Linked DNA regions of Homo sapiens. The protein of the gene in region 3 purifies or fractionates together with the protein of the main gene of each other region. This does not show direct contact. Each region holds a gene or a part of one and is shown on either strand. Other genes may lie near its edges.

Region 1 (7,034 bases), about 83 Mb from region 3:
TTTATGTCTCGGTGAATTTTCTTTTCTGAATGCAGATAGTCCAGACCTTTTAAAATTTCCTTTAGCATGGTAGCAATCTGGAACTCATCAAATGGACCAGCTCGAAGCTTAAGGGGAAAAACACACACACACATACACATATGTGTAAAAGTTTGGAAACATAAAATTCAAAATTGGTACCTTTGAAATGAAGAAATCACTTAGACACATGATGCCGTTCTGTTTATCAAACCAATATCTAAACAAGGAAGGAAAAATGTAAAATGTGAAGGAAGAAAGCAAAAGAGTTCAGTCAAAGGGCTGAACAGGTTTTTTAATGATTCAATTTAATGAAAGATAATACGAGCCCTTTTACCTATATACTAGGCTTCAAATTCTGAGGTTCCTGAATATTTACATCAAAGATGAAACAAATATGCTTACGTAATGACAGAACCAACTATCTGTTCTTTAGATGGAAAAAAAGAGAAATCAGCTACTTAAATTCAGGCAATTGCTGTGAAAAAGTTACTACATATTGACACGAAACTGATTTTTAGGTCAGAGAATCCATAAGATTTCCACAGCAACTATTTGATCATATCAGTCAGCATTTATGTATTTTAATAATATTGCAAAGAATAGCCTTTTTGAGACTCAAATTGTAAATTTAGCCAAGAATATAATAATTAAACTATTCAGACTATGATGGTAAAAAAAAATTAAATCATGGAGGGATAATGTTTTTCAAATAAATGTAACACATATCCCTTTATTTCCCCATCCCTGTACCAAAGCCAATAGTTCCAACTGGAATACAAGGAAAGCAATGATTAGGTTTCAGGAGAACTTGTAATGGAATATCTGAAAATCCCTCTTTAAAATAAATGGTTATTTTAAAATTCTGGTACCTCATAAAGCACAAACAGTGGACTGTACAATATTATTACAGGAAAGGGTGGGAATCTAAAGTCAGAGCAGAGGTAGAGTTCTGTTTGCTTCTGGAAGGAGGGAAGAGGTGGTGAAAATCAAACATTGCCCACTCTGCCTCACACTGGGAGGGATCCACAGCTCTTTGGCACCTTGTGTATTTCATCTTTCATGAATGCCATATTTATGCTGAATAAAGGGCACTTTCATGTTGAAATTTAACAGCTTAAAATAGAACTCATACTTTGGTCTCACCATCTAATATTAACTGTGGTCTGGGTATATAGTATACTCCAGGGATATCTGTAATTCAATAGGTCCCTTTCCTAGGTAACATTATCTACTTACTTTCAAATCTATCAACTTCCACCCCAAAGTTTCTATTCAAACAGTAGTGATTAAAATAGTTTCTAAAGTCTTCTAGAAAGGTTGAAAATGGCATACTATTTTGTTGATGGCTGGCAATGAACTTCTGAGGTACTACAAAATAACTAAAGGACAAATGTCACACTACTTAAGATCAGTAATTAGTATCATCTGATCACAGGACATTGGCAAGACCAGGGGAGGTATATCCTTGGTTATTTCAGTGATTGGGCAAGATTAATGTACGACCTACTAGCTATCATTCTGAAGGACATGTAAAAGTAACATAAATAAGCCAGTATATTACCTAATACAGAAGTTTTTAAAAATATTTAAGTAAAAACAACAAAAAGGGGATCCCAAAGATTCATGAGCTTATCTGCTATATTTTAGGTTCATGTTAAAATTCAATAAAAGTGAAATCTCAATTAACTGGGTGCTAGAGGAGGATGGGAAGAAAGACTCTGTGGCAGGGAGACTTCTCCATTTGAACTTTTCTCCGATAACTGAAGAACTTGCCATGTCTCTAACAGATAATATCTCTGTCCCAGGGCAGTGTACTTGCCTTGTGTAATTTGCCTCTGTTGTCAAGTAAGAATATGCAAGAGAGGGACCTTGACTCTTTCGAAGACTGTACATTTGTGAGCTCATGGATCTTTGTCACAATTTAACTTCCAGCCAGTCCCTAATGCAGTCTGCTATTTTATGCCCTCTCTTATGGTTAGCATATTGTTTCTTTTTTCTTGGGGCTCATGTTTTATTCTAGTCATCTTATTATATGTGTTTTTGTTGCAAGCCACCACGATTCTTTTTGGAAAGAAGTGGAGCATAATAAACTCAATAAAATGATGTGCAATATACTCAAAGTCTGCTCACATACAATAAATTGTTTTTCAAGAATGGGAGTGACTCAAGGTAGACACTGTATAATGTTAACATAAATGACAAGTTGTAATCTTATGTTATTCCATTAGTTAGGTACCAGGCACCAGTTTAATGTGAGAAACACTCTCTGCTAAACATCCCTCTTATTTCCTCTTGTTCTTAGTAGCAGAGCCTTCCTCTACACCTAATCCTGTCTTAGATTCCCCCAAATGATAGCATTTATTTGTACAGGAATATACATGAAAAAGGAATAGCACATTTTCTCATTATCTGCTCTCCCTGTAAAGTCTAGTTAAATGAGTTTTATAATTAAATCACAATATTATTGAATTTTAGAGCTAAGAACACAAAATTAGAGATTACTGATTCAATTTCTTCATTTAACATGTGAATAAATTAAGACACAAGGAGGCTAAAGGGCCGCCCAATATTTGCCAGGCAGTCAGTGTTAGCACTGGGTTTATGACCTAGGCCTTTTGATTCTTAACCAATACAGTACTAACAACATTTTTCATTCATTGAAACTGTTATTAATGGCTATTTGTTTTATTAAGTAGAGTTCAGAATAGCAGGATGAGATTAAGATCTCACAATCATTTAACTTGGAGATTTCATAAAACTGACCAAACTACTAATAGGGGACACAGATTTGGGTCATTGGTTGGGGTTAGGCCAGTGTTCACTGTTTAACATTGCTATCAGTGATCCTGTTGAACAGAGTGGCCTAGCTTTGCCAGTGCTTCCAAAATGGGGAAGAGATATGGTGAGCACCCTGAGGAACCAGATAAGACAACTGATAAATTTGGAAAGGGCTCTTAATATTCAAAAAATGGAAGGAGGATCATGAAACAATTGAGAGGCTTCTTGTAGAGCTAATGAAAAAACTATTGAATAATATGACTCTGTGACAAGACAAATAGAAATGAGATCATTTAACTTCAAGAGGAGAATGAAGCCTGACTCCATATGCATGAAGGATTATTACACAAAGAAACATCAGTGGTGTTCTCTCACTAGAGACGAGAGAAAAAAAATGAACTCAGGCTTTAGGATATAAGAATTAGATTAGACACAAGGAAAGATTACCAAATTCAGCAACTGATTAAACTGACATGAATTCCTAGTAGTAGATGAGGCTCTCCATCAAGTTTAATTACCATTTCTTTAAAATGGTTTAAATATGGTTCTGCCTAAAGGAAAGAAAATCTCTTATAGTCATTTCTGTTCATAAAATTATTTGAAGCTTTGAGTTACTGGCAGTCAAGGTTAAAGCCTTTTAAAAATATTTAATCACTTTCAGTTAGGAAAACTCATCTCCACCTAAAAAAATAAGAATTAAAATATTACTTGATTATTTTAATCAAAACACTTTCTTAGAAACAGCATACTCTATAATTTCTAAGGCAGAAACACGCAAATAAAAAAAATATAATATTAAAGATGGAAGGGAACTTAGAAATAACTTAGTGCAACTTCTTTGTTTTATAGAACACCTACGTCCAGGAAGTTTGTGTCTGGTTCACAGGCACAGAGCCAGACCTATAACCTCAAACACCCCAGGCCAGCCCAGTGGTCATTCTACTACACTAAGTTGCCTCTCATAAGTCATACTGAATTTTAAAACATAGTATCATATTAATAAAGATTTTTAAGGAAGGGAAAGAAACTCAACATTGATAGGATCACACTGAATTGGGGAACAACCAGTGTTTCTCAAAGGCATTCTGTGTGTAAATGCATCTTCATTGGGTTGAATTTTCCTGCACACTGCAGGATTTTAGCATTCTGATCCATGACCACAAAAATGGCAGGAGCACTTCTAAGTCATTGTGACAACCCAAATGCCATCACATTTCCAAATAACCTATAGAGGGGCAGAGAGAACTCTGTGAAGAACTGGATCTGTAGGCCAACCTTGTTTAGAACCCTAGTACCACTATCTTAGTCAATTCAGGTGCTATAGCAGAATACCACAGACTGGGTGGCTTAAACAATATTTCTCACAGTTCTGGAGACTGGGAAAGAAGTCCAAGATCAAGGGGCTGGCAGATTCGAGTCTGGTAAAGGCACTCTTCCTGGTTTCCAGAAGGCCTTCTTCTCACTGCACCCTCTCGTGGTGGAAAGAAAGTCAGAGAGCTCTCTGGGGCCTCTTTTGTAAGGGTGCGAATCTCATTCATGAGAACTCACCTTCATGACTTAATTAGGTCCCAAGGTCCCCACCGCCTAATACCATCACATTGGGGGTTAGGATTTCCACATATGAATTTTGGGGGGACACAAACATTCAGTTCATAAAAAACACTTTTAGTGACAGTTATCTCAATTACATATTTTTTAAAAATCTAAGAAAACTCAGTTTTTTCAGGGATAAGCTTGCAAAAGTCAAACTTTGACAGCAATGGATACACACATCCCCTTCTAATTTGGGAGACTTTATTTTATTAAGCTATTTGCATTTCTTATATAGTCTTAGAATGCCAGCAACATGTTCAAACGTACAATACATCTGTACCTACATAAGGTAGAGGTCATGAAAAAAGAATTTAATTTGAACATATTAACTAAAGCAACCACTTAGCGTGCTCAAAAGCCATTAATCTTCAATTTAAAAAATTAAGGTATGTGCATATGCACACATTTGCATCTGTGTGTAACTATTTTAAAATACTTACAAGATCCAGTGCTGAACCACCGCCCAGGTATTCCATTATTATCCATAATTTAGACCCCTGTAAAGCCATGAAACAATTTAATAATTACAAACCTGAGCCAAAATAACATACTAGCAAAAATGTTAAATCTCACATACTAAAGCACAGATTCTATTTGCATGTTCTCATTTATTTGTGGGAGCTAAAAATTAAAACAATTGAACCCTTGGAGATAGAGAATAGAAGGATGGTTACCAGATGCTGGGAAGGATAGTAGGGAGGGGGAGTTGGTGATGGTTAATGGGTACAAAAAGTAGTTAGAGAAAATGAGTAAGATCTAGTATTTGATAGCACAACAGGGTGACTATAGTCAATAATAATTTAATTATACTTTTAAAAATAAGTAGAAAAGTATTACCGGACTGTTTGTAACACAGAGAGTAAATGTACCCTGATGTGATCATTATACATTATATGCCTTTATTAAAATAGCTCATGTACCCCCATAAATATTTACACCTTCTTTGTAGCCACAAAAATTAAAAATTAAAAAAATAAAGAACAGATTCTAAAATGTAGGTTTAAAAATGGTTGCTTGGGAACCCCGAATATATTTTTTCCATAGAACATTCCAAATTAAAATTCTGAGCTTAGACTACCCGCATACCTTTTTGCCTATGATATAGCTAAACAAATAAAAGTACTGTTTGTTATTGTTGAACTATTAGTAATTTTTATAAAAAACAAAGCTTTAAATAATTATCTTGAATGATATTGGAAAGAAAAGATAGTTACATTAAAGAATGAGGAGGTAAATGAGGGCTTGTAGAAATTTTGGGTTTGAGTTTGAGGACAATGGATATTTTGCCTTATTTCAGTTGTTGGCTTTCATTTGTTTTGATGTACTTCAAACTTTTATCAGCTACGGTTAATGGGCATTTTTGGCACACACGGAACCTAGAAAGAATATTGTTCATTTTACCTCTGATGTAAATGGATAAGAAAAAGGGAGAGTGTAGCTTTAAAAATCTGTGCTTTCTCCAGGTGGAATTAACTTCCCTGTGAGCTGAACAAGAGGAAATGGGGCTCCTGGGAGGAATATATGTATACAAATTCTAAAACAGGTGTACACACACACATACCATTCAGTACCATCAGTTAAACACTGGAATAAACCATTAAACCCTTTTTATTTTAGCTATAGCTTAAATACAAGGGACACCTCTCTCTCCATACCATTTCATGAGTGGTATTCTCTGAATTTTTGTGGGACCAAAGAGCTGACTGGAAGTAGAATGGTTGGCTTTACTATACTGGCAGCAGCCAAGTAGTGACTGGACTGTGTTCCAAAAGTTGGTTTTTAAGTAAGATGTTCAGAATTTTAAAAGCAAGCATTTTCCCATAAAAATAATGTCTAAGTTCCTGGGGTAGTCCTCCCAAAAGACAATTTCACACAAATGTATTCATTCGTAGTATAGCATAAAAAGTACCAGAGAAACTCACTACTATTTATATCTTAACAATATTTCAAGTAGGAAAATATATTCAGCATGGTGCCTCAACTTGGGATGCCAGAAACACATTTCTCACCTTTACAACCCCAGCTGCGGGGTGAAGATTCTCAAGCTACTGCCAGTAGCCCTCAAACTCAAAAATCCCTGGGAGGTATTCAGGAGTCCAATTTAAAATTTCCAGGCATCTCCATGAGGATGTGACTTTATCAAGGCAGAGAATGGAACCCAGTGACATGATGATGAGTGCTTAGGGGATGGGAGAGGGTTGAAGAATCAGAGTGGAACTGACATTGTAGTGTGGGGAATGGGATGTGGCCTAGGGTTAGCGATCATGAAGGGAGGGCTCAGTTAATTAAGACAAAATGATTCTCCTTTCCATATGCTGACACTATGTAGAATTTGTAAGAGAAAGGGAGGAACAATATTCCCCTACCACTTCCTCCACTAATCTTGACATCCACTCTGTCCTGACATAGATGGCCAGCAGGCACTGTGAGCAGAAAGCTGAGAGTCTTGGTTAGCAGTGAAGTCTACATTAGGAAATAGAGGAAATAAATTCCCACAATACTGGTGAGGGAAGAGGAGTTCCAGGAAAGGTTCATATAACTTGTATTTGTGTATAGAACCTAGGCACTCGCAACCTGAGAATTGTGACTCTGATGTACCTTTATACTTTTTTCAAGAGAAGAAAAAAGTGGTTCTTACAATG
Region 2 (7,000 bases), on a different chromosome or scaffold from region 3:
CTGGGGCTGAGCAAGAGCTGCTTCCTTTAGACAAACTGGCTTGTGCTCTGATGGAGCAGTGCCCTCTCTTCTGGCTTTCATGATTCATGCTGCTTTTCTGGTCTAAGACTTACCTAACACCATCCCATACTCTTCTCCCTGGTGCTCTCTTACAACACACGAACATAAAAGGATGTGAATGTATGACTTATAGAACATGTAAGTAGATGTATGATTACCTATGGCAAGTAAATTTAACCTCAGATCCTTCACCTGTAAAAACAGAGATAATCGTAGTATCTAACAGAATTGTGAAGATTAAATGGGATAATGCACATAAAACACTTAGCTCAGTATCTGTCACAGAGTCAGCATGCAATATAAGGGGCTACTGTTTGTTTTGACACATATTTCTCACACTTATAACTAAAATGTAAGCCTACTTGCCATGGCTACTGACTTGATTTTTATAGGTGATACAGCATCAAAATAGTGTACTTCTGTATTAACACTCCAGTAAGTATTAATACTCCAATAACTGCCACTGTTAGAAAAAAAAAATCAGTAAATAAACCTTCCTTAGTACCTTTATATGACATTACCAGGAAAAACTTCCACAATTATATTTTGAAAGGCAGACTCATTTTTGCCAGATTCATGTATTTCCCCTGATTGTGGCTTTTGGTGGTCTGATCAGTCAGGTAAGTGGATATCTTACTACTAAAACATACTTCAATACTTACTACTAAAACATACTTTAGTATGACAAACATCTTAGTCATAAAATATCCTCCAAACTAAGACCAACTTGATTTTTCAAGATAATCATAGGAACACCAAAAGAAGCTTACTACCTTTTGCTCAGCTGTTGGTACTCCAATGACTGCCTCATAATGCATATCTAATTCTTGCCCCTCAGACAGACATATACAATATTTTTCTCCAAAAAGCCACAGAAGTCTAACTGAAACTATTTTCTCCCGAAACCAATAAAGTCCTCATACAATGGAATACCATGAAGTACAAGAACTGAATGAAAACTAATGAGCTACAGTTCTCCACAACATAATCTTACAAACATAATGCTGAGCAAAAGAAGCCATATACAACAGAATTCACACTAGAAGATTCTGTATGCGCAAAGTTCAGAGAGTCAAAACTAGTGCTTTCAGAATGCATAATTAGGTGGTAACTATAAAGAAAAACTAGAAAATGAGAAACCTAGAAGACAAGATACATGCAATCTTTGAAGAAGGGAGGATATGACCCAGAAAAGGCATGTTAGGGATTCTAGCACTTATCATTATGGACAGAATTTTATTTGCTGCTCTCTACCCGCACCATTAAAATGCCCTATCAGTACAGAGATGTGTTCACTGCTGCATCTCCAGCACCTACAACAGTGATTGGTACACACGAGGTAACCAACAAATATCTGCTGAATGTAAAATTCCGCTTTAGGAATCCAAATTGTTACATATTTCACAGCTTCTTGAACCCTAAATGTAACAGTAACAGCTAGTATAGTGTTCATTTGCCTTGTCAGTATATTCAAGGAGCTGTTAAGCATATAAGCCAATTACTTTATAATTCTTAATGTCTCCCTCCTATTGAGATATTGATACCAAACATATGCAGAAAACACTTACATCAATGTATCCAGATTCAATTCAAACATTTAAAAACATTAACAAGGAAAAATACAGAAACTCTGCTAAACAGCAAGCCCAGGTTTAGAAAATGACTTTGTCACCTCCTCCAACGAAGAAAGCACACAAGAATGCTCTGTTATTACAGGATGACCATAAGTTTGCTCGTATTTTTAAGAGTAAACAATGCAAATCCTTTGTTTCTTCAACAATGAGTTACACAATTCACAAAGTGATCATTACAGCGTATAGCAGTTGAAAACTGTAAATTTCTAGGATCGGGATCCCAAACAAAATGTACTCATTTAATATGTGTTAAGCTAACAAAAAGAATTAGTCATTACTGGTATCCTCCTGAATTTTAAAATTACATACTAAATTAAGTGAGCTAATCTTATATTAAGTTTAACTGGTGATATTCAGTTACCAGAAACTGTTGTACAATCTCCAAGATAATGACAATTCCAAAAGCGTGAAAATTCCTAAGATAACCAAGAAGAAAAATGAACTTTTCAGTCTTTGGGAATTTACATTTTTTTAAAAAGGAAAAAATATTTCGGTAAGTCAAAAAAAATTAATTAAACCAGGTATACGCTAATCTTATGTTCCTAATTAGAATCCACAGAAAGTAATATCAGCTTCTGTTTTACCTCCTTTCCGGACATGATAAACTAGAATTGAGATCATTCACCAGTTAACTCACTTCCCAGTATTTTCAGTATATCAACTGAAATATATCCGCAACACAAACTAATAAAACCTTATCTCTTGATCTATCCCAAAGTGAGGGCCACCTGAGATTCAGTATTGAGCACTACATATATGACAGGGTTTTGTTATCACATTTCAAATGGTGTTTTACAGTACAAAGTTTGGTAACATTGGTGTTCTCATGATCTAAAGCTGTGTTCTTGTGGTAAAGGCAATCATTCAGAGTCCATTTATTTTCATCCATGCTTAGGATATAAGATAAAACTCCCTACCCACGTATTCCCCACATACTGCTCATTATTAAGAATTTATCTGTTTAAGAGGAATGGAAATAAAGCACCTGGCTAGCCCATAAAGGAGCAACCTGAAGCCACTCTTCTCTGCAATAAATAAATAAAGATGCACTCTAGGTCAGAGAGAGCAAAAGTCTTATTTTTATTGCTGGCTTATGCAAGAAATACTGCAACACACCAATTTTATAGGATTAACTTTAAAATCTGTAAACTATCCTAATGTCTATTTCTTTCTACAAGACTAAAAGTTGTTAAAGTAAAAAGGTTTTTCAAGATTTGCTTTCAAAATTCAGAGGTGCAAAGCAAGTTCCAGTCAAATATTCCAGGAGGATCATTCTAGACATAAACTATCTTTTTATTTAACATATCAAAACTTTGCTAATTAGAAATGACTGGCTCATTCCACTAGCTTGTCTTCAGCTACTATAATGCTCAGTCATACACAATGCTGAGCACGTGAATGCTTTCAGGCAGGCCTGAAATGAGCAATGACTGAGCAGTCACAGATGGGTGGCACTACACATGAATTTACAGCTGGACTCATGGTCTTTCAGTAAGGTGAATTTTTATCATATCAGGGGTATGTCAAGTAACAGGATTACGTCTTCAAATTTTCCACCAAAACTATTATTTTTAAAGACATTTTCCTTAGCAGCATGGTGATCTATCATATTTATACACAGTTTTATTCTTAGAACTGTACAGAGTTTACATTTGGTCTCTAAACAGAAAAGAGATTAAAGAGCAAGTAAAAGTCAGAGCCAGACCTTGTTTCCAGGATTGGAGGGGAAAAAGGGAGTGGAACTACTGTACTTTTTTTCCTTCAAATCAAACGGGAAGCAGTACTACATATACTGCGTTACAGCCCTCGAAGCCACAGATTGGTTTCCACCTCATTATTTATTGGTGTCTTTCCTTTTTTTTTTTTGAGACAGACTCTCACTCTGTTGCCCAGGCAGGAGTGCAGTGGTGCTATCTCGACTCACTGCAACCTTGGCTCAACTGCAAACTCTGCTTCCTGGGTTCAAATGATTCTCCTGCCTCAGCCTCCCAAGTAGCTGGGATTTTAGGCATGTGCTACCACACCCGGCTAATTTTTGTATTTTTAGTAGAGACGGGGTTTCGGCCGTGTTGGTTGTGCTGGTCTTGAAGTCCCGCCCTCAGGTGATATGCCCGCCTCAGCCTCCCAAAGTGCAGGGATTACATGCTTGAGTCTGGCAAATTGGTGTCTTTCCTAATAATATAATGTAATTTGTGCCAATATATAACCTGGGGGGGAAGAACACCACAATTTGAAACATAACTATCTTATGAAGCTGTCCTGAAACAAATGTAAGAGTTGTAAAATGTAGTTAGGATTATCAGCCAACTATATAAATTAAAGCTTTAACCATGATGGTCTAAAATGCCAAACACACACAAAAATTATTGCTACAGTGAGGATCATTAAAAGTTGGCAGCCAAACTTCAGTGACTTCTCACAAACTACAGTGAGTTTTTCACTTTTAAAACAGTATGAAGCAAGTATGCATTGATCAGTAACTATCATAATTAAAACACTGCATCACTCACTCAAGAAACAATCCCTATATGTAATGACTGACTCTTGTCATTAATTTTTGTTCATTAGCTTGGCCATTTTCTGCAGCTCTTAAGGTTTCAAAAACGTTAAGATATCAAGAAAAGCCCACTGTATACACAAATTAACTCAAGATGGATTAAAGACTTCAATGTAAAACCCAAAACCATAAAAACCCTAAAAGAAAACCTAGGCAATACCATTCAGGACATAGGCATGGGCAAAGACTTCATGATGAAAACACCAAAAGCAATTGCAACAAAAGCTAAAATTGACAAATGGGATCTAATTAAACTAAAGAGCTTCTGCACAGCAAAAGAAACTATCAGAGTGAACAGGCAACCTACAGAATGGGAGAAAAACTTTTGCCATCTACTGATCTGACAAAGGTCTAATATCCAGAATCCACATGGAAGTGAAACTAATTTACAAGAAAACAAATATCCGTATCAAAAACTGGGCAAAGAATATGAACAGACACTTCTCAAAAGAAGACATTTATGCTGCCAAAAAAAAGGAGGTATTTATGCGGCCAACAAACATATGAAAAAATGCTCATCATCACCGATCATTAGAGAAATGCAAATCAAAACCACAATGAGATACCATCTTACACCCGTCAGAATGGTGATTATTAGAAAGTCAGGAAACAACAGATGCTGCCGAGGCTGTGGAGAAATAGGAACGCTTTTACACTGTTGGTGGGAATGTAAATTAGTTCAACCATTGTGGAAGATAGTATGGCAATTCCTCAAGGACCTAGAACCAGAAATACCATTTGACCCAGTAATCCCATTACTGGGTATATACTCAAAGGAATATAAATCATTCTCCTATAAAGACACATGCACACATATGTTTACTGCAGCACTATTTACAATAGCAAAGACATGGAACCAACCCAAATGCCCACCAATGACAGATTGGATAAAGAAAATGTGGTACATATATACACCATGGTATACTATGCAGCCATAAAAAAGAATGAGTTCATGTCCTTTGCAGGGACACGGACGAAGCTGGAAGCTATCATCCTCAGCAAACTAACACCAGAACAGAAAACCAAACACCACATGTTCTCACTCATAAGTGGGAGTTGAACAATGAGAACACATGGACACAGGGAGGGGAACATCACACACCAGGACCTGGGGCCTGTTACCCGGGTTGGTGGTGGGGGGAAAGGGAGGGAAAGCATTTAGGAAAAATACCTAATGCATGTGGGGCTTAAAACTTAGATGATGGGTTCATAGGTGCAGCAAACCACCATGGCACACGTATACCTATGTAACAAATGTGCACATTCTGCACATGGATCCCAGAACTTAATTAAAAAAAAAAAAGCCCACTGTGCTCCACTTGATACAATAAATCAATTCCTGGGTATCATGTAAATCAGTGTAACAGTAAAAAATGACATAAATCATTTTCATACTTACATTATAATTTCAGATAGCCACAGCGGGCAATACTACTATTCCCGAGACTTAACAAAAACATTTAAGTATTCAGCAAAATCTAATAAGCATATACAATAGCACAATCTTAAATTAAATTTTATTGCTTCCTCCAAAGGAAAACAGCTTGAAAACACAGAAGCCACTGAAACTTCCTTCAGCCACTTTTCTGTGATTCAACCAATGAAATCGTTTCTTAACAATGATTCATACCACTTTCTTACACATTTAAACAATTCTTTGGTGACGCAGAGAACCACCCTAATTCTTGTTTTTCAACTTTCTAATAATCTTAAATCAAATACACCAGTAAACAAAATTCTGACTGCGAACGCAGACGTTTATCACACATATAAAAAACGTTTTTTTCCTTTATTTATTTATTTGAGACAGCGTCTCGCTCTGTCGCCCAGGATGGAGTGCAGTGGTGCGATCTTGGCTCAATGCAACCTCTGACTCCCGGGTTCAAGCGTTTCTCCTGCCTCAGCCTTCCCATTAGGGGGGATTACAGGTGCTCGCCACCAGGCCCGGCTATTTTTTTTTTTTTTTTTTTGTATTTTTAGTAGAGACGGGGTTTCACCATGTTGGTCAGGCTGGTCTTGAACTCCTGACGTCGTGATCCGCCCCTCCTGGCCTCACAAAGTGCTGGGATTACACCGCGCCCGGCCACGTTTTTTCCTTCATTACTTTTTGTTTTTGAGACGGAAGCTCACTTTGTCGCCCAGGCTGTAGTGCAGTGGCCCCGATCTCAGCTCAATGCAACCTCCGCCTTCCAGGTTCAAGCAATTCTCCTTCCTTAGCTTCCCAAGTAGCTGGGATTATAGGCACGCGCCACCATGCCCGGCTAATTTTTGTATTTTTAGTAGAGACGGGGTTTCACCATGTTGGCCAGGCTGGCCTCGAACTCCTGACCTCAAGTGACCCACCCGCCTTTATTACTTCTTTAGTATCATGCACGGAGGATTCTTTTCAATCTAGGTACATACATATTTTTAAGTAGTATTCTACATTTTCTTCTATTTTAGAATTTTTATTGCTCTTTGTCATTTAGATTTCCTTTGATTTTTTTTAGCCTATGAGGCAGAAAACATTTTTAAAAAATGGATAACCAATAGTCCTAGCACCATACATTGAACAAGCCACTTTCTCCAATAGTCTACAATATTATTTTTTACCACATATTCGTAGTTTTCCACCTTGCTGGCTAAATGAACTTAAAAGTTATCGTATCTCTGTGTTTCAATTTCTTCACCAAAAAGTAGAGATAATAGTTCACTTCATAGGGTTACTGTGAGAATTAAATAAATTGAGCACTTAGAACAATACCTGACA
Region 3 (7,457 bases):
ACCACCGACCCTTTGTTTTTCAGAACTAGACCCCCTACCCTCTGGATCCCCATCCCATTTTCCCCCGGCTAAGATCCACTCTGCCTTCGCCTCTGAGAACTAAGACCCTTCCTTCCAAACACTTGCTTTTATCCTAGACCCCTTCCCTTCTCTTCCCCCAGTACCTGGAAAACCCACCCTCTGAAATTCCTATCCTCGAGACTGACACCCCTCCCTGCCCCTACGTTATTCCTATCCTGGGACCCTGTACCCCTCCCTGCCCCTACTTGTGAGAATACCATGACCTCTTGCAGACCCTCCCCACAGAGACCACCAAACCCTTCCCACCCAGAATCTCAGCTTCTCCACTCTGTGAACCTCTCCCTTCTCCTCACTGATCTCTGACTTCTCTCCCTTGGGAAACCCACCAACTCCTTTTCGGGGCTCTCCCACCCCTCGAGGCTTGCCAGGGTGGGTCTCCAGAGGCCGACGAATAACCAGGTGGAGCTGGGGGCCTCCAGCTCGGATCCGCTCCACGGCCTGGGCATGGGTGAGGCCCTGCGTTGACTCTCCGTTGATGTGGAGCACGAGGTCCCCGACCTGGAGGAGTGCAATGCAGTCGTGTTGGAAAGGCAAAAGGAGAGCACCCCAACAAAGGCAGGGATAGCACCTACCAGTGGAAGGGGCTTCAGGGCTCACCTCCAAACGACCACAGCGCTGTGCTGGGCCATCCTTCAGCAGCCCGCGCACGGCCAGCGGAGTGTCCCCAGCTACATCCCGGCCCCCACCTAAGGTGAGGCCAAAGCCTGCGTAACCGCGAACCAGCTCCACAGAGAAATGACCAGAGGCCTGGGATGGCTTCGGAGCACTACGTGCCTTACCCTGGATCAATTGGGGAGGTGCGTTACATGTCTCTAACCAACGGTGCTGGAATAAAGGACACAGGTGTACATAGTTTGCCCTGAGGCAGGAGGCCTCCGATAGAAGGATGAGATGGTACCTGGGGCCGGTGATCCACAATAGTGGCATGAGGCAGGCGACTGTCTGTGACCTCTATGTCCGCAGAGTCCAGCACGCTAACAGCTGGGAGATAAAAGCAGTGGAGAGGGCTGTTGGGGGACATGCCATGGAAACTACCTAGGACCTGTTCCCTGAGTTAACATTCTAGCCTCATCTACTTGTCTTGCCCCTGCAGCTCATATACAAACTGGCCCACCATTTACGCACCATCCCCTCAAGTAATCTTAAAGGTTCTCAGCCCAAACAAATTAACTGTTCTGACCCCACCTTCTTAATAAACAATCCTGGGCTCAGCCATGTGAATAATCTTCCAGGCCTTCCTATCTCCCTCTAATAACACGCAGAACACATCCCTCAAACAACACCATTCGGCCCACCCTGGAGAATGCTACTCCAAAATTTGGCTCCTGAACCTTCCATAGCACGCCCTCTAATTAGCCTCTAACCCTCATCCCATTCCTGACATCTCAAGCCCCGCCCCCATGGGACTATAGGCTCCACCCCCGTGACTCACATTTCAGGCCTGCCCCTTCGCTGCGTGCCCGCCCCCCAAGCACTCTCCAGGCCCTGCCTCCTCAAAAAGGACCGCCGCCAGAACGGGGGTCCAGTTCCGCACTCTCATCTAATCTAGCCCTCGCCGACTGCAATAACCCTCAAGGAATATGCTAGAATAACCCCAAGGCTCCTCCCACTCGAAGCACCCTCCGATCCCCGCCCCAAGTCGCGCCCCTTGGCCCCACCCAAGACAGGGCAGTAGCTGCTGACCCCCCAGGCCTGTCCCACTGAACCCAACTCCTCTCCGAACCCTCCCCCAGCGGAGGCCCTGCGCCAGTCACTCACCCTCCTTCCGGCGCAGGCGCAATGTGGCGCCCGCCCTGCGTACCAGCGCTGCCACGTCGACCGCAGCTCGCGCCGCCAGGGGGCGCGCGTCCAACCGCGCCAGGAGCTGCCGGGCGCTAGGGCCCGCGAGCGGGGAGGGGCCGCGGCCTGCGCGCAAGAGGGGACAGGTCAACGCCGACCCTCGGCCTCGGCCAACCCCTATGCTTCCGGACGCTCGAAGACCTAGAAATGCCCCTCAGGATACCCGGCGACCCCTGGCCACTCCCTCGATAGTTTCGGAGGTCACTGCTGTCCCTCCCCTCACGCGATCCCCGACCGTCGCGGGTAGCCGGTGCACCCCCGCTTGCTCCCACGGTGTCCCTGGAGATCGCTGTTTGACTGCAATAGTCCTAGACACCTCCGAACACCCCGTGAGGTCCTCGACTGCCCCCTAATCACCCTGGATGCCCAACTCTTCGCCCGCGATATCTCAGGGGACCCCATTTCCCCAGATATCCTGGGAGAACACGGCCTGACCCCATAGCCCCGGAACCCCCAATTCCCCGTCTAAGTATCCTAGGCAACCGCTGCTACCCCCATGAATTCCCTCAGAGGGCCCGTTCCCCCCATGGCCCACATACCTCCAGAGTCCCCCTCCACAGGTCCCCAGGGGCCCCCAGCTCCCCTCCCCCCAGTTCACTAAGACCCTGAGTGCCCAGGTGTCCCCAGTGACCACGGGCAGACCCCTCCCCGCACATCTGCACGTCTCCCTGGAGACTCCTGAGAGCCCCTCCCCTGCTCTGGTGCGCGGCCCTTTCCCTCGTGTGTGGGTGTGGGTAGGGGACCTCCAGCCCAGCCTCCATCGCTGGGCCCCTGCCCCCTGCCACCTTCACTTGGGCGCCAGAGCCGCTCTGTTTACCACCTGTCAGAAGGAAAAGGTGTGGAGCAGACAGGCGGGACGGGGATGGCGGCGACTCGCCCTGTCCTTCCCCAACGACCCCAATCCCTGTACCTCCTCTGCTCCCCCTAGGGTCCGCGGCGTCCCCTGTGCGCGGCTCCATGGCCAGTAGTCCGCCGGGTGGACGCAGGGCTGCCAGCTACGAATTTTGAGCTCTGGGGCGCGCTCACCTGGCGGCCCGCCCAGGCCCTGGAGGCTGAAGCTGGCGGGTCCCGTGCCTGGCTCCCGGACCCGCGCGGTGACCTACCTGGCGGCCAGCAAGGAGGCCTGGCTGTAGGAGCCAGGAGGAGTGCTTGGCCTCACTCTGCTGCAGGCGCCGCACTCTGTTAACTAAAGGTCCTAGTTAGAATTTAAAAGCCTGACAATACCAACTGTTGCTGAAGATATGGAGGAAATGGAACTCCTATACCTCCGGTGGAAATGTAAAATGATATTGCAACTTTATTTATTTATTTAGAGACAGGGTTTCGCTCTTGTTGCCCAGGCTGAAGTGCAATGGCACGATCTCGGCTCACTACAACCTCTGCCTCCCGGGTTCAAGTGATTCTCCTGACTCAGCCTCCTGAGTAGCTGGGATTACAGGCATGCACCACCACGCCCCCCTAATTTTGTATTTTTAGTAGAGACGGGGTTTCTCCATGTTGGTCAGGCTGGTCTCGAACTCCCTAAAGTGCTGGGATTACAGGCGAGGCCCGCCTCAGCCTCCCAAAGTGCTGGGATTACAGGCGTGAGCCACTCGTGCCCGGCCTGCAACTTTAGAAAACAGTTTGGTAGTGTCTTTAAAAACTAAGCGTACACATATGAGCCAGCCATTCCACTCCTGCGTATTTATCTAAAAGAAAGCATACATTTACACAGCCTTGTCTTACAAATATTCATAGCAGCTTTATTTCCTGTCTTATTCATTTAGAACTACTGTAACAAAATATCGTAGACTGGGTGGTTTAAACAACATAAGTTTCTCACAGTTCTGGAAGCCGGAAAGTCCACGATCAAGGTGGTAGCCAATTTGGTTCCTGGTGAGGTCTCTCCTTTTGGGTTGCAGATGCTTGCCTTCTTGCTGTGTCCTCACATGGAATTAAGAGAGTGAAGGAGAGTAAAGGCGTGAGAGAGGCACACACAGAGAGAGGGAGAGATCTCTCTCTTCTGTTTCTTATAAGGTCACAGTCCTATCTGGTTAGGGCTCCACCTTAGTGACCTCATTTTACCTTAGTTGCCTCCTAAAGAAGCTATCTTCAGATACAGTCACATTGGAGGTTAGAGCTTTAACATATATATTTATGGCTGGGCACAGTGGCTCACGCCTGTAATCCCAGCACCTTGGGAGGCCAAGGCGGGTGGATCACCTGAGTTCAGGAGTTCAAGACCAGCCTGGCGAACATGGTGAAACCCCATCTCTACTAAAATATACAAAAATTAGCCAGGCGTGGTGTCAGGTGACTTAATCCCAGCTACTTGGGAGGCAGAGGCAGGAGAATCATTTGAGCCCGGGAGGCAGAGGTTGCAGTGAGTGGAGATCGAGCCATTGCACTCAAACCTGGGGGATAAGAGCGAGACTTCTCTCAAAAAAACAAAACAACAACAACAACAACAACAAATATATATATATATATATATTTATGGGTGGACACAATTCAGTCCATAATATTTGTTAATATCCAAAAACTGGAAATAACCCAAATGTCCATTAATAGTTGAATGAGGCCAGTAATCGCAGCACTTTGGGAGGCTGAGGTGGGAGGATCGCTTGAGCTCAGGAGTTGGTGACCAGCCTTGGCAACATAGTGAAAGATTGTCTCTATTTTAAAAACATAGAAACATTGTCTCTATTTTAAAAATGCTAATGCCTGTAATCCTAGCACTTTGGGAGGCTGGAGGTGGAGGCAGGAGGATTGCTTGAGCCCAGGAGTTTGAGACCAGCCTGGGCAACATAGTGAGACCCCATCTCTCAAAAAGAAAACAATTTTCAATGAAAAAAATAGATGAATAAATTAACAAACTATGGTATACACATACAGGGTAATACAACTCAGCAATAAAAAACAATGAAGGATTTGGATGAATCTCAAAAATAATTATGGTAAAACAAGCCAGACCCACGCTCCAAAAAAGCACATGCTGTATGATTTCTTTTATATAAAAATCTAATAAAATGCAAACTGATATACAGTGACAGAAAGTGGATTAGTGGTTGCCTGGAGGGAGGGGGCCAAAAGGGCAGGAAAGAGGAAATACAAAGGGCAGGAGAAAACTTTTGGCAGAGATAGTTATACTCAGTATTTCTTTTTTTTTTTTTTAAGTGACAGGGTCACATTCTGTCATGCAGGATGGATTGCAGTGGCACAATCATAGTTCATTGTAACCTCAAACTCCTGGGCTCAAGGGATCCTCCTGAGCAGATAGGACTACACATATGTGCCACAATGCCTGGCAAATTTTTTACATTTTTGTAGAGACTGGGGTGGGGGGGTCTCACTATGTTGTCCAGGCTGGTCTTAAACTCCTGGCTTCAAAAAATCCTCCCACCTCTGCCTCCCAATGTGCTGGGATTACAGAGGTGAGCCACCACACCCAGCCTGTTCAGTATCTTCACTGTAGTGATCGTTTCACTGACATAAACATATTCAAAACCTATCAAATTGAAGTCAATTATATCTCAACCCCTTCAAAACTTAAAACAGCTGGGTGTAGTGCATGCACCTGTAGTCCCAGCTACTTGGGAGGCTGAGGCACGAGGATCACTTAAGCCCAAGACTTAGAGGTTACAATGAGCTGTGATCATGCCACTGCACTCCACCCTCAGTGACAGAGCAAGACCCTGTCTTTAAAAAAAATAAAATATAAATTCTCAAAACAGGCTGGGCATGATGACTCACGCCTGTAATTCCAGCACTTTGGGAGGCCAAGGTGAGAAGATCACTAAGGCCAGAATTTTCAGACCAGCCTAGCCAATGTAGCAAGACTTTGTCTCTAATAAATAAATAAATACAATCTTTTGTTAAATTAATGAATTGGGTGGGGCTGTGAGAGAAATTGACTTAATTCTTGAATTACATGAGGCTAAAAGGGGTAATTAGGGTTTTTTTAAATGATTTTTTTTTTTTTTGAGACAGAGTTTCGCTCTGTCACCCAGGCTGGAGTGCAGTAGTGCGAGCTCGGCTCACTACAACCTCCATCTCCTGGGTTCAAGCAATTCTCATGCTTCAGCCTCCCAAGTAGCTGAGACTAAAGGCACCCACCACCACGCCCGGCTAATTTCTGCAGTTTTAGTAGAGACAAGTTTTCATCATGTTGGCCAGGCTGGTCTCAAACTCCGCCCATCTCTGCCTCCCAAGGTGCTGGGATTACAGGCATGACCCACCGTGCCCAGCTGGGTAATTGGGTTGTATTCACAAATGGATGAGGCTAAGAGGGGCATTGATTTGAATCCACAGTGGGGCAGGGCTAAGTGAGGGTTTGCTCCCCCATAGTGTCATTGTAATCAATATTAAAGATAAGCACCAACACTGCTACCAAATAGCTTGGCTTGGCACAACACCAGCAATTTGGAAGCTTTGTTCCGAACTCTCTTGACAGTCTTACCATGCATATCTCATCACCCCCACTTCCCAGAGAGGTACATTGAGGTGTCAGGCAATGCAGTGGCTGGAGTTCCTCCCTCATGTCTGCATCCTCTCTACACCCCTAACCCTGCCAGCAGCCTCAGTGACACATACACTACTCTCTGGCCCTGGAATTTCGGCCCTGCTGGTGTCAGCTCTCTCAGTGAACACCTATCCTGGGCCCCTGCCCCTGTAATTTCAGCCCTGCTGGTGTCAGCTGTCTCAGTGAACACCTATCCAGCATCCTGGGCCCCCGCCCCTGTAATTCACGTCCCCTGAGGATGTCCTTGGACCCCTTCATTCGTTCATGATTCCCCAAGCCTGAATACCTCCCAGCCTGGAAGCAGTTTCCCATCCAGTTGGCAAGCTCCCTGATCGATGTTAGTAGATTCTACCTGGTGCTTGGATGCCTCCCCTCACTGTCCATCTGTCCTCGGCCCTTGGACAATGCCCCAGTCTGCAAGACCCTCCCATGCATGGAGCTACAGAGCCTCAAGCTCTCCTTCACAGTGTGTAAGCACCTCACTCTCACATCCACAGGTTCTTAAAACCTGGAGCCCCAGATTGGAAGCTGCCCTCTCCAGATTCAGGTGTGGAAGTCTCAACAAGAATTGGGAGGAGCAGTGAAGGAGGTCCAGGGTGTCCCCCCTTAGACAAGGTCAGGTCAGAGGTGAAAGAGGCAGGGGACTGCAGGTGGAATGAAAGCAGGAACCGTTCAGACCCTTTCACCTATGAGGATACTGGGTCTCTGAAAGGTGAACGGAGAGGCTTGCACAACCAGCCAGAATGGACATTAGGACACAGTGTGTCCACAGCCATAGTGAAATAGTCACTAACCAAGTGAGTCTTGTAGGTAAGCTGCCTGAAACTGGTGTTGTTGGCTTGCTGCAGGGACCTAGGCAGGTCCCTGAGCCTCTCAGACCCTGAGTTTCTTATTTGGCAAAGTAGTGGTGAAAGGCCCTCTCTCACTGCAATCCCATTCCTCCTTCCACTACAGTCACACTGTGTCCGAATGCTCCCTGCTTGGGGCTTATGTCCCCAGACACTCCCCTTTTCAAACATAGAAGAGGCCTCATTCC
Region 4 (7,034 bases), on a different chromosome or scaffold from region 3:
GCAGGCGTTCGGCCGCCTGCTTATTATCTGTCCCTGAACCTGAAAGCAAGTCCTCGGGCCTCTGAGTAAAATCAAGGCAAGCGCATCACCGACGTACTCTCAGCAGAGATCGGCTTCTGCCAGGGCCTGCCTGCCAGTCACCGAGTGTGTTTAGCTGGTTGAGAGGTGCTTGGAGGTCTGGAGGTGCATCCGTCAGAGATCATGTTCAGTAGCACAATAGGGTGACCGTAGTTAATAATTTGTTGTGTTTCAAATAGCCAGAAGAGAAGATTTGGAATATCCCAGCACAAAGGAATGAGCCGTGTTTGAGGTGAGGGGGATCCCAGCTACCCGGATTTGATTGTTACACACTGTATACTTGTACCAGAAAAAATTCATATAACTATTATGTACCCTTACAAATGAGAAGGCTCTGGGTCTGTGTGGCCAGGAGACAGCATGCTTTGAAAACAGCAGTAGCTGTAATGAAATCTGAGAGGCCTGGGGGAAGCAGACAGATGTGGAATCACACAAACTTGAGAGCCACCTGTTGGTGTGGAGAACCGCTGCCACACAAGAGTCACAATTGCCACCTCTGTTCTTGCCTCTCCCCTCCTCGGTCCTCCCTCCTTGTGCCTGCTCACTCCTGTCCTCCTGTCGCTGCCACAGTTCTGGGTGCTTGCCCACCCTGTGCTCCCATGCACCTGCTTCCCTGCTCCTAGGGGCAAGAGACTGGGATCAGTTGCATTTCTGCTGATTTTTAAGATAATGCAATGCAAGATAAAGCAGAGTCCAAGTTGTAGAGGGAAGGAAAATAGTATTACTTCCAACGTCAGCTCTTCTAGACTGACCCCTTCAGTACAAGATTTAGTAGAAAGAATTTAGAACAAGACTTGCTGGCAGCTTTTCATCTTCACTGAGAATAAGGAAATAGAATATGCCGTAGGCATCATTCCCATGGACTGCTGGGCTTGGGGGCTTCCAGTAGGGATTTCTGGTACTCACTAAGGCTGCAGGAACATGGTAAGTGTATCCTCTGGATAGTTAAAGCACCCTGCAGCCACAACGATGCTTCCGCCTATGCATTTCCTTGCTGTAGAGTGAGTGTGAGAGATGTATTCGATTCTCACTGAAGTTCTTGGAATAATGATGGATTCCAGTGCACAGTGAGAACAGCAGGAAAGCTGTACCAGACTCAGGCGTGTTCTCTACCCCAGTCCCCATTCGTCTTTCGCCAGCCCATATAGGACTATGTCCTGCCTCATTGTCGGCCTCTGTCCTGTTTGGGGATTGGTGTCACATGCTGTCAATGTCTCATCAGCTGTCAAGTTCCTCTTAGGATGGCCTGGCTCTTCTCATTGACATGACACATTCAAGGAATTCATTCCTTTGCCTAACTGCTTGGTTGTGCCACAGGCCTGTGCTGGGCAGAAGGAGGTGGGGCAGCTGGACCTGAGATGTCCTAGTGGGGCCACACGGCTTCTGCAGATGTCTCCTCTGGGACATTCGGCAGAAAATGCAGACACTAGAGAGACACAGTAAATGACATCAGCAAGAAACCACCAGACAAATCCCGAATTTGGGACCTGTTTCTTTAAGTTGATGTCCCTGGGGAGACTGGGGACAGGACTGTTGTAGGTTGAAAGAGCCTTAGCGACCTGGCAGTCAGTTGTACCCCGTGGACTTTGGATCCTGATTCAGATAAACCAACCATGGAATGACAGTTTTTGAACAGCTGAGAACATTTAATTATACATGACATTAAGGAATTCGTGTTAATTTCAGGCACTGATAGGTAGTAAAAAGTCTGTATATTGGCACACGGAAATACTCGGGGGAAAATGTCATGATGACTGATTGATTTTAAAATATACTCGGGGAACACATGGACAAAGCTCGTATGGCAAAATGTTAATTAGTAAATTCATGCAATAGGTAGATGAGGATGCATTATATTAATATTTCTCAGTTCTTTGTATGTTTGAACATTTTCATAATAAACTTTTTTAAGTTCTGGGCCCCTGGTAAGGCACCTTACATGGCCACCTCCTCCTCTTCCACCTCCATTCTACAGATGAGAGAAACAGGGCTCAGAGGTTAGCTCTTTCATCTAACGTCACAGGACTTTGACTGTAGAACTGGCATTTCAACCCAGGTATCTTGAGACCAAGGTGCCCACTCTCGACCTCAGAGCTGTGCCCTAAGTTCTAAGCACTGCTGGAGGGGGTGACTCGCGAGCGTACACCCACTCCGGACTCCTCCTCTCTGCTCACCTCTCTTACTGGTCCTGCTGGCCCCCGGGACTCCACGGGGAATGCCGAATGCATCCAGCAGGAGGCGTAGTAGGAGTGAATTGATAAGCCATCTCCATGTAGAGGCAGAAAACATTTGGCATATTACAGTTTCTCCTGTTGTCTCTTTTGAAATTACAGCGAGGGCTTATGTTTTTAAATATCAGTTAAAAATACCTTTTTCAAAACCTCAGAAGTATTGAGACATGTTACCATTTTCCCCCTAAATACTGTGTATTGGAATAGATTCCTGCTTGGTGTTTGTAAAGATGCTTTTCTTGTTGCAGGCAGACATCTGGTCCCTGGGCATAACAGCTATTGAACTTGCAAGAGGGGAACCACCTCATTCCGAGCTGCACCCCATGAAAGTTTTATTCCTCATTCCAAAGAACAACCCACCGACGTTGGAAGGAAACTACAGTAAACCCCTCAAGGAGTTTGTGGAGGCCTGTTTGAATAAGGAGCCGAGCTTTGTAAGTTTCCCAGGGATCACAGCGTACCTCTTCATGTGCGGCTTGACTTGGTTGAGATACATCCTGTTGGGATTGCTTTAATCACTCTTTTCAGCTGTCTTCCTGGTATTATTCATTTTTCTTTTTCTAAGTAAGTATGATTGACTTCTTTGGTTTGCAAATACATTTTAATTTTTAAGTATTAAAAATCTCCTTATTTTCTTTTAGATTTCTGCCATCTCATACTTCATTGAATCTGAAGAATATTCTCCTTAATATTAAATGTGGAATCATAAATGTTTAATATTTATAGAAGATCAGGCCATAAACTGTTACACTGTTTTTAATAATGGCAAAGGTTAGCTGGAAACAAATGGCTAAATATGTCTTTAAAGTAAATGTTTTCACTTTCCAGGTGGCATGTGTTAGGAAACAAAAGATTAGAAAATATAACCAAGCCACCCTCTGTGCTTCTTCCCCTCCCCTTCCTGCCTACTTTCTCTTTTTAGGTTTAATAGACTCTGGCAGAGCCATACAGCAGTAACGACTGTGTGGCTTTGCCTCATTTTCTGTCTGAATTAGGACATTTCTTTGAAAGTAGTGTGTGTGTGTTGGTGTTGGAGGTAGCACCATATGTCCTTGTTTTGTTTCTGAGTTTTCCAGCAGAGTTAGCTGAAGGCTAAGCTGAGCCCCCCTTTTCTTAACTCTTATGTAAAAATGGGTGGTTACTTTTACAAGAGCACCATGGTTTCCTAATATGCCAGTTCTGGTAAAGGAATTAAATGGGTAATGCAACATTTTCTAAGTACGTCTAAGGAGATGCAGGCTGAGACCACCACACCAGTGTTTGATGACTACATCAGCATCGGGTGGTGGTGGGGCTTGTCCTGCATGCCACGATGCTCTGCATTTTATTACACGATGATGTTTCTTGCAGCCATCATGCACCAGCACCAGTGGAGATGTGTGCAGGCATGTCTTCCCATACAAAGCATGTGTCCTGTATGGGCTTATGCCCCAGCACACAGAGCTCCACCCCACAGCTACCGAGGAGCTGGCTGAGAGGCGAGAATATGAGCACCTCCGGGGTAGTTGGGGTTTCACCCTTGGATGGACAGGGAGGGAGAATACTTGAGGTGATCCACGTTTCTCATGAGTTTGAATCTGAAAACATGCTTGGCTCTTGTAATCAAGCTTTTGTAATTTGGAGTGAGTGGGAACTTGGTTCGACTCGGTGTTTGGGTGTTCCTGCTGTCTGTTCCCATTTGGGCCATGCTGGTTTCCTTGGGAAGCACATTCCCTGTCACTATCGCCATCCTCAAGGCAGGCAGCTGACCAGGTGCTGCTTGCGGTGGCCATGCTGAGCCCAGGGCATGGGTGAAGTCCTCAGCCCAATCACAAGGGAAGGGAGGGAGGGACCTGGGAAATAGCCCTTCTAAACCGGGAAAGTTGGTGGTGAAGCGCATCCAGTTGCTCTTTCAGCAGACAGGAAAAAGGGGATCTCCTGGCTCCTTTCCAGTTTCTCTGAGATAATTCCAAATTGACATTTCTATTATATGGTTGGATGTGGCCAAACGTTAATACAGAAAGTTAACAAAGCAGCCCAGCATGGTGGCTCACATCTGTAATCCCAGCACTTTGGGAGGCCGAGGCAGGTGCATCACCTGAGGTCAGGAGTTCAAGACCAGCCTGGCTAACATGGTGAAATCCCGTTTCTACTAAAAATACAAAAAATTAGCCTGGTGTGGTGGTGCAGGCCTGTAATCCCAGCTACCCAGGAGGCTGAGGCAGGAGAATCGTTTGAACTGGGGAGGCGAGGTTGTAGTGAGCCGAAATCGTGCCACTGCACTCCAGCCTGGGCAACAAGAGCAAAACTGTCTCAAAAAAAAAAAAAAAAAAAAGTTAAACAACACAGAACATATATTTTGTCAGCATTTGTCATAAAGTATTTTATAAACTAGGAGATAAGCTTTTTTTTGAGACAGAGTCTTGCTCTGTCGCCCAGGCTGGAGTGCAGTGGCGCGATCTCGGCTCCCTGCAAGCTCCGCCTCCTGGGTTCACGCCATTCTCCTGCCTCAGCCTCCTGAGTAGCTGGGACTACAGGCGCCCACCACCACGCCCGGCTAAATTTTTTTGTATTTTTAGTAAAGACGGGGTTTCACCATGTTAGCCAGGGTGGTCTCGATCTCCTGACCTCGTGATCTGCCCGCCTCGGCCTCCGAAAGTGCTGGGATTACAGGCGTGAGCCACTGCGCCCGACCAGATCATTTAAGCTCTCTTAAATGATCCCTGTGAAGCTCTGTGCAGAGTTTTCTGTGAAAATGTATTTATTAGGGACATCCTTGGAAAGACAGTGCCCTGCCCACCATAGCACCCAGAGCCCAGGCGTAGGTCCTGAGCGACTCGTCTTTGGGTGAGTTGCAGTGAGAAGCGCTGTGGAGTAGAGAGTCCAGCCATCAGGTGTCAGTGTGGCGGTTGACATTTTGAGGCAGAAGTCTGTCCTTTGGGGTAGGACCAAGAACTTCATCTCATACTTTAATTGTTGGGTGTGTTTTTCCAGAGACCCACTGCTAAGGAGTTATTGAAGCACAAGTTTATACTACGCAATGCAAAGAAAACTTCCTACTTGACCGAGCTCATCGACAGGTACAAGAGATGGAAGGCCGAGCAGAGCCATGACGACTCGAGCTCCGAGGATTCCGACGCGTAAGTCGGCCCCTGAGTGACCCAAGCATGTGTGTGGGAGGGATCCGCTGGTCTTTGTCACTGTTTGGTGTGGGTTTCGTTTTCTGTTGAGTTTTTTTTTTTTTTTAGACAATCCAGGTTGGTGGCAATTGTTGTGTTAGACACAGCCTGGGCCTGTTTGGGAGTTGTTTAGCCTCTTGACGTTGCTGGTGGAGTTTCTGCGAGTGAACTCTTGTGGTAGAGCTGTGCATGGGGAACTGGACCTGGCTGTTTCATTCTGTTTTGTTTCGTTCTGTTCTGTTCTGTTTTCCATTAAACTTCCTGTTTGTAAAACCCTGATCAGGTGAAACTGCTTTACATGGATGTCTGAAAGGCCAGAAATGCATGTGTTTGTGATTCTGTATTGTGTCTGGTAGAAGCTTCTGTACCAGGAGTGGCTTACTGAGAATTGCTGTCAAGTTTGGCATCTAGGAATTCCCTTGGCTTAAGAGGCGGAGTGGGGCTGGAGCCATTTGTGTGGGGAGGGCTGGGGGAGGTGGTCGGGCAGACTTGTGTCTGGAAGTCCGAGCGTGGGACTCGTCTGTTCTCGTGCATGCCTTGGCAGAAGTTAAAGTTGGCCCACAGTGCAGGTCCATGTGCCAGGCCAGTTGAATGAGGATTTCCGGGGATGAGACCCTAAGTGGTTTTTCAGGGTCTCTAGGTGATTCCAGTTTAAAGCCAAGGTTGAGACCACTGCCCCCGGAAGTTCTTGAGGTACTGCCATTGGGAGATTGCTGGGGTAGCAACAGGGATGACAAGAGAAAGAGACTGGAGAGAGGTTTGGAGAGCCAGGACGCGGCGGTGGATTTGGGTGAAGGAGGGAAGCCAATGTTCCAGGCTGGGGCAGCGTGGCACCAGGTGTTGTGATGTGTGGTGCGGGAAGCCGAGTGTGGGGTGAACCGTGTGTGAGTCTGAGTTGTCCAGGAGAGACGTCCAGTGTGAAGTGGCACCGAGGTGTGGAGTTCAGGTGAGAAAGCTGGGCAGGTGAAGCGGGCTTAGGGGCCACTGCTCTGTGGAGGTCACTTGAGCCGAGAGAAAAAAGGGTGTCAGTTGGGGCATGTGGGGGAGTGAGGCTGGCCCCTAGGTGTGAGGGTGAGGCTCCGCCTGTGAGTGAGAGGGGAGAGGTATGGCCGAGGGGCGGGAGGAGGTGCAGGCTTAATGGGGCCACAGGCATCAGGGGATGATCAGCAGGGCCTGGGGCTCATTGCCTCTGAGGCCCATACAGGACAGGGAGTGATCAGCACACCATCATCTCATGATGGGGGAGGGAGCGCTCGGAGGGACACGGGTGGGCTTTGGAGCGAGTGGAGGGTACCAAATAGAGGCAGTGAGTGTGAATCCCAGAACCAGGGCTGAGAGATGGCCAAGGTGAGGCCAAAGTGTTGGAATGACAGGCATGAGCCACCACACCCAACACAGGGACATCTGCTTCCCTGGTGAGAGGAGGAGCCCAGCAGAGAGAAGCTGATGTCCCAGAGATGGGCTCCCAGGGAGGTGGGGGAGGTGTTCTCCGGGAGGAGGAGGAGGGTGGGCATGCACACACTGGCACGCCAGGGAGTTGTGGAACCACCTCCCGATGGTCTCTTCT

The links.
Region 1: the proteins of MAGIX (region 3) and STK26 purify together in Homo sapiens (affinity purification with mass spectrometry; 3 studies listed by BioGRID and IntAct, with this or other methods). This does not show direct contact.
Region 2: the proteins of MAGIX (region 3) and TJP1 purify together in Homo sapiens (affinity purification with mass spectrometry; 3 studies listed by BioGRID and IntAct, with this or other methods). This does not show direct contact.
Region 4: the proteins of MAGIX (region 3) and STK24 purify together in Homo sapiens (affinity purification with mass spectrometry; 3 studies listed by BioGRID and IntAct, with this or other methods). This does not show direct contact.

The regions. Positions count from the first base shown.
Region 1 is NC_000023.11:132,061,288-132,068,321, reverse strand, and holds part of STK26 (serine/threonine-protein kinase 26), read right to left. Parts: intron 4,890-7,034; coding exon 4,833-4,889; intron 108-4,832; coding exon 1-107. UniProt on the Homo sapiens protein: Serine/threonine-protein kinase that acts as a mediator of cell growth. Modulates apoptosis. In association with STK24 negatively regulates Golgi reorientation in polarized cell migration upon RHO activation.
Region 2 is NC_000015.10:29,812,469-29,819,468, forward strand, and holds part of TJP1 (tight junction protein 1), read right to left. Parts: intron 1-7,000. UniProt on the Homo sapiens protein: TJP1, TJP2, and TJP3 are closely related scaffolding proteins that link tight junction (TJ) transmembrane proteins such as claudins, junctional adhesion molecules, and occludin to the actin cytoskeleton.
Region 3 is NC_000023.11:49,158,312-49,165,768, reverse strand, and holds the start of MAGIX (PDZ domain-containing protein MAGIX), read right to left. Parts: upstream 3,012-7,457; 5' UTR 2,880-3,011; coding exon 2,831-2,879; intron 1,987-2,830; coding exon 1,840-1,986; intron 1,063-1,839; coding exon 980-1,062; coding exon of another isoform or gene 907-979; coding exon 679-906; intron 580-678; coding exon 408-579; intron 1-407.
Region 4 is NC_000013.11:98,462,085-98,469,118, reverse strand, and holds part of STK24 (serine/threonine-protein kinase 24 isoform b precursor), read left to right. Parts: intron 1-2,557; coding exon 2,558-2,743; intron 2,744-5,282; coding exon 5,283-5,428; intron 5,429-7,034. UniProt on the Homo sapiens protein: Serine/threonine-protein kinase that acts on both serine and threonine residues and promotes apoptosis in response to stress stimuli and caspase activation.